Homo sapiens: one gene and its partner. The protein of the gene in region 2 purifies or fractionates together with the protein of the main gene of each other region. This does not show direct contact. Each region holds a gene or a part of one and is shown on either strand. Other genes may lie near its edges. The genes, in order: CEP135 and ZBTB11.

What was found.
Region 1: the proteins of ZBTB11 (region 2) and CEP135 purify together in Homo sapiens (co-immunoprecipitation; one large-scale study listed by IntAct). This does not show direct contact.

What each region holds. Positions count from the first base shown.
Region 1 is NC_000004.12:56,007,839-56,011,673, reverse strand, and holds part of CEP135 (centrosomal protein of 135 kDa), read right to left. Parts: intron 3,348-3,835; coding exon 3,292-3,347; intron 1,940-3,291; coding exon 1,771-1,939; intron 263-1,770; coding exon 152-262; intron 1-151. UniProt on the Homo sapiens protein: Centrosomal microtubule-binding protein involved in centriole biogenesis. Acts as a scaffolding protein during early centriole biogenesis.
Region 2 is NC_000003.12:101,648,228-101,650,934, forward strand, and holds the end of ZBTB11 (zinc finger and BTB domain-containing protein 11), read right to left. Parts: 3' UTR 662-2,707; downstream 1-661. UniProt on the Homo sapiens protein: May be involved in transcriptional regulation.

The DNA of each region.
Region 1 (3,835 bases), on a different chromosome or scaffold from region 2:
GTACCACACTAAAATCTATGGGAAAAATAGAAAAAGGCAGTAGACAAGATCTCTACTTTAAAATGTTTAATATCTAATTGTAGAGGCACATGAAAAAGTTAAAAAAAAAAAAAACCTCAGTCTTAAATCCAACCTAAATAATATTTTTCACCTTGGCAGCCATTAAGCTCTCCCATCGTGACACCTCTGTTATGTATTTATGAACTCTGCTCTTCATTTCTTCTTTTTCTTGCACTGCTGCTTCCAATTCCAATGAGATTTCCTACAAATCAGAAAATTAAAGACAATCTAAAATGAACACAACACCAAATAAATTTTATTTATATTCAAATAATTCCTTTGGAATTGGAGAATAAGATAGAGTAGGGCAAAAGGAAAACTGTTCCTAAGTGTTATTTTCACATATTTTTCCTGGCTGATCTTGCCTTTTAAAATATTTCAGACAGAGTCTCATTCTGTCGCCCAGACTGAAGTGCAATGGCGTGATCACAGCTCACTGCAGCCTCGACCTTCTGGGCTCAAGCAATCCTTCCACTTCAGCCCTCCGAGTAGCTGAGACCACAGGCACATGTCACCATACCAGCTAATTTTTTTTTTTAATTTTCTGAGATGAGGTCTCACTATGATGTCCAGCCTGGTCTCAAACTCCTGGGCTCAAGCAATCCTCCCACTTTGGTCTCCGAAAGTGCTGGGATTATAGGCGTGAGCTACCACGCCTGGTCTGATACTGACTTTTTAACCAAACTTTATCACACATTTCCCATAATAGTCCTGATCATGTATCTGGCATTTACACTAAAGGCTAGCTATGGTCAGGGGTTGACATTAAAAAACATTCATATTTCATCAATATGCTTTATGCTGAATAATACGGAAAATAATTTTTTAAAAACGTAAGATGTTTAAAACAGTAAAATCACTGGTTTTCTCAGTACAATCTTTTAAGAAACCAGCACGAACAGAACTAACACCTTTCAGTACTTGCCATTCTAAAACACTCATTCATTTATCTACAGGTGTATTTTGGAGCCGACAGAAGCTTGCACAAATAATTAAAACCTATCCTGAGTCTTTAAAACACAGAAACTTTGCTCTGGGAGGGATGCTGATGTCCTCGCCCGGTAGGGTGACAATGATTTCTGACATACAGAATTTCATGCTCCCACCTTTAGGTTTCCTTGCAACAAAGACCAAAATGGTGAGAAGACCAGTTGCACCCATTAGACACCCTGTGATATATAGCAGCATTCTAAGCTATGTGTTTTTTTTTTGACAGAGTCTCACGCTGTTGCCCATTTTTTTTTTTTTTTTTTGGATGGAGTCTCACTCTGTTGCCCAGGCTGGAGTGCAGTGGCACGATCTCGGCTCACTGCAACCTCTGCCTCCAGGTTCAGGTGATTCTCCTGCCTCAGCCTTCCGAGCAGCTGGGATTACAGGCGCATGCCGCCAGGCCTGGCTAATTTTTGTATTTTTAGTAGAGATGGGGGTGGGGGGGGGGTTTTCACAATGTTGGCCAGGCTGGTCTCGAACTCCTGACCTCAAGTGATCCACCCACCTCAGCCTCTGAAAGTGCTAAGATTACAGGTGTGAGCCACTGCGCCCGGCCTAAGCTCCATTTTTTAATACCCTGATAAACACCATTGTCCTTAATGAATTATTTATGTCACTTATTTTTATATCATCAGATTTTAGAAAAAATATTTAGAGCTTTAATATTTAGCAAACAATGGAAAGTATAAAACTATCAAAATTTATGCCTTGTGTTCATACTTGATTTTCTCTTGCCATTGTAGCCAGGTCATCTTGCAGTCTTCTGTTTTCCTTAAAAGCGATTTCTCTAGATCTTCCTACTTCATCGAGTTCTTTGTGAGCTGCATCAAGCTGGCGCCGGAGGCTGTTTATCTCACGATCTCGATTAACCAATGTTTCTTTCAGCTGGCTGTTAAATGAGTGATGTGAAACTAATAAAGAAAACTTTTAAAAACTGTAGTTCATTTAAAAGAAAACTTATAGTCTAAGTATACTTAGAATACAAATATACTGTGATTATAAGAAATTATAACTGCTGCATTAAGAGACCTATTAATTAGGTAGAACAGGTATTTTAGAGCTCTACCAATAATTACATGCAAATGAAGTTAAAAAAAAATGTTATTCCAACAGTCAAGTAAACACAGAAAACTTTCAAGTGTTAAAAGTTGAATAGCTTGGGGGCTGGGCGCGGTGGCTCACGCCTGTAATCCCAGAACTTTGGGAGGCCGAGGCGGGCAGATCATGAGGTCAGGAGATAGAGACCATCCTGGCTAACACGGTGAAACCCCGTCTCTACTAAAAATACAAAAAAAAATAGCCGGGTGTGGTGGCGGGCACGTGTAGTCCAGCTACTTGGGAGGCTGAGGCAGGAAAATGGCGTGAACCCGGGAGGCAGAGCTTGCAATGAGCCGAGATCGCCCCACTGCACTCCAGCCTGGGCAACAGAGCGAGACTCCGTCTCAACAACAAAAAACAACAACAACAACAAAAACAGTTGAATAGCTTGAGCCCAGGAGTTCGAGACCAGCCTGGGCAATATAGGGAGACGTTGTTTCTACAAAAATTTTTTTTTAAATTAGCTGAGCGTGGTGGCACACGCCTGCAGTCTCAGCTACTCAGAAGGCTGAGGTGGGAGGATCACCTGAGCCTGGGGAGGGTGAGGTTGCCGTGAGCAGAGATCTCGCCACTACACTCCAGCCTGTGCGACAGAGTGAGACCTTGTCTCAAAAACAAACAAACAAAAAGTAAAGCATAGATTCAATTGGCAAATATTTATTAAATGTTTATAATCCCCACTATTATATAAAATGTTAAGGGTATGTAAAATAAATATAATAAGTGACTTTTTTCTTGAAGTGGCTTACAATCTGCCTAGAGAGACTATACATAAAATGTAAAATTTTGTGACAGTGCTCAAGATAGGTTTAGATGGAGAATAAATTCGAGATTGGCTACTAAAGTAATTTTAGGTTTTAATGATTAGGCTCCAAGTGGCATAATTATAGTAAAAATAAGGAACAAATAGGTATATAGGAGAATAGTTAATAAGACATAAGTGTTTAGATGTGGATGACAGAAAAGGAGAGGTTAAAGAAGATAACATTTTCAAGCTGGAGACTGAGAAAATGATGCTACCATTGACAAAAATGGGGAAATTGAAAGGGAAATTCTTCTATTGCTGCAATGCTACTGAATAGATAAAGCTGTATTCACTGAAAATCTCCTAAAAAGCTGGATGTAATTTCATTAATGACTTACTTCACAGATGATTCACACTCTGAGATCATTATCTTCATTTGAGCAACAGCTTTTTCCTATAGAAATTACAAAAATGTGTAAGATTTTAAACCAAAATGTCTTTAGCTAAATTTATGTAACTTGTCATATTCATATAGTTCAAATACACAGCTCAATTATATAAAGTATGCCTAAAACAAAGCTCCAAGTAAACATATCTCCATGTCCCAATCATACTTCACATACTGGCATGTTTTGACCAACCCTTGAATAGTTTTCTTGAGTTTGCTTTAATGAGATCTGATAAAATCACATTCTAGAAATAGACAAAATCACATTTTGAAGATTAACATTATTTGAAAAAAATGACATTTAAACATTAGAAAATATGGCCCTAGGTCTTAGAAACTTCTACATGGCCAATAATAACTGCATATTTGGGAAACTTCTGGGTCTAAAATGGTGGTGTAGTCACAAGCTGACTTCAATCCTGACAAAGAAAACCAAAAATAAATATACAATGCTAACATTATCATCAGCACTATCCCAGGACTCAAATATGAGG
Region 2 (2,707 bases):
TAAAATGAACATATTAAAACCTGTTAGAGCATTACTTAATTCACTTCGATTGACAATACATGCATTTCAGGGAATAACAACAGTGATTCAAATTGCTTAGTAGCAGTAGCAGTAACAAGTAGCCAAAAGTGCTTAAGGCGTCCATATTTGATCAGGAGACACCCATAGTTTTTGGAAGTCATCTCATGACAGCAATATGCTTTATGTTTCTAAAAAGGAATTGTTATAAATTAACAATGCCCTCTTGGTAACATTAAAACTGCACTGAATTTTTGGAACCTTCTTAACATTTGTTTCTACATGGAATTTATATAATTTACAAATTTACATTATTCAAAGCTGATGGTTGATGGCACAATATATAATCCTGTGACAAGATTATGAAAAGGAAGTTCCCAGATATCCTCACAGGACATGAGACAGGGGTGTGGCTCATTTGTTCACCCAAACCCCTTACAGGAGGGGAAGCATGCAGATGGGCAAGTGCAGGAGCTGGATTGAGTGCTTTTGGGCTCTGGCCCCACAGTAGCATCTGGTGGGGGGTGTCTGCAACTCCCAAAGCCCCAGTGGGAATGTTACAGGGCTCCTTTAGCTCTGCTGTCTACAGATAGCTTAAGTGTTAACTAGCTCAGTGCCCTCTTGGTACCTGCGTTCTTGTCCAGCGTCCAGGAAGAATCAGGTCACATGGACAAATTGAAGGATGGTAAATGCAGGGGATTTTATTGCTGGATAAAGGTGGCTCTCAGCAGGATGGATGGGGAGCTGGAAAGGGGATGGAGTGGGAAGATGATCTCCTCTCCAACCGTCCCCAGCTGAACTCCTCTGGACGTTTAGATGCTCCTCTCTTCTCTCCTCTGCCGCAACACTCTTCTGCTCATGGAGCCTGGGGTTTAGGGTTTATATGGATACAGGATAGGAGGGCGTGGTGGGCCAAAAGGCAACATTTGGGCATGAAAACAGGAATGCCTGTTCCCATTTAGGGCCATGGGTTTCCAGGCTTTTGCTGGGGAACTGCCCTCTTCTACCCATTATTTCCTTGCCTCTTGTCCATATCAATTATATGTAAGAGTAAGAAGTTTTAATATTGTGTTCCTCCAATCGTTATTTTTTAGTGTTTTATTTCCTTTCCCTTTAAAAATAAATTAACTTAATAACACATCAAGTAACAACTGATTTATGAACTGAAAATAGTAACAAGCTCAACTCCAAAGTTCATGCTTTTCAACAAGATTCAACATCTTTTATTTACATGTTTATGACATACATTAATGGTCATACACAATTTTTAAACTAAATCTAGTAACAACAGAGGATGGAACATAAAAGACACAATTCCAAATTTTAGTCAGGTTGAAATGTTTTTCCACTAACTGAAAGATAAGATAAATGAGCAGCCATTATAAAGTTATGGGCTGTATGTCAATTCACGTCTTAAAATTGAAAGTCAGCCACACAGCTGTTAAAACAATGGGAAATTTGCAAATGCAAATATATAATGCATGCACAGCTATCACATTTATTCTTTATCCTTAAAGCCATTTTTAAAGTAAACTGGGAGAGGCAACTTAGTAATATATGTACATCAAGGCACATTCTTTTCTTGTGCTTTAGGAATGATTTACATGTGATCTGCTTATATCTTAATTTTATACTTTATAACAGCTTCTAATACCTAAAAGCTTAATTTTTAACAATTATTCTTTGAGTGGTAGTTTCCCAGAGAGAAATGTGGCATCTCTCATGGTTATTTTCAAAGTCAGAAAATTGGATAGCTTGAGGAGGTGGGATTTAAAAATCAAACATATGAATTAATATAACTTAGTTTTCATAACCTTTAAAAATAATTTATCTTCAACAATTTAGTGGAACTGTAATCAATTTCTTCAAGTATGATACTATGAGGGCTGCACTGAATAATTTTCAACATTCTGAAATTACCTGACAATTACATGGTATCCACAGAGCTGCTGTGAATGTCTATATTGCTATCTGATTTCTCAACTGCAGTTTTTCAACCAAATTAAACAATTAAACATGATACAAAAGCTGAAAACATACCAAATCTAGTTTGTTTGTTCATTAACTTGTTCATTCTTTGCAAATAATGAGAATTTTTTTTTCCATTAATTGTCCTATGTTATCAAGGAGAATTTTCCTGTCAACAGTGTTTAATAACTGTGTTCTTTTCTCATGGTCAATTTACTTGCCTTGAAGAAATAGTATAGTAAGGTTTTAATAAGCATTTCATGCATTTTAATGGCATTTTAAAAATTAGCTATTCATTTATGGGTTCCTCATATAGATAAATATATTGTGCAAACTTGATTACAACATGTAACTCATAAGTGCTTTAAAATAGAATAAAGCATCCCTGACTTAAAAGGGGATAAAATAAATAGTAAGTCAAGAATCACAGATCTAAAGCATTTAAAAAACGTAATATACCTATGCATCCTATTGAAATGCTTTATATTAGAATTTTCTTTTTAATCCATAAACAGGGCAAATAAATCACAGAATCTCTATATTTTGAGAATAAAACAGAAGAAAAGCCAACTGGTGCAGCCTTTTAAATGCAAAATGTATAATAAAGTAATGTCAAAATGCAAATGAAACTGTACGGTTTTAAATTCAGTACAGTCATTTATAAACATTAATTCATAAAAGGTATATCATGATAAACCACTGCCATCAAATATTAGGTTGG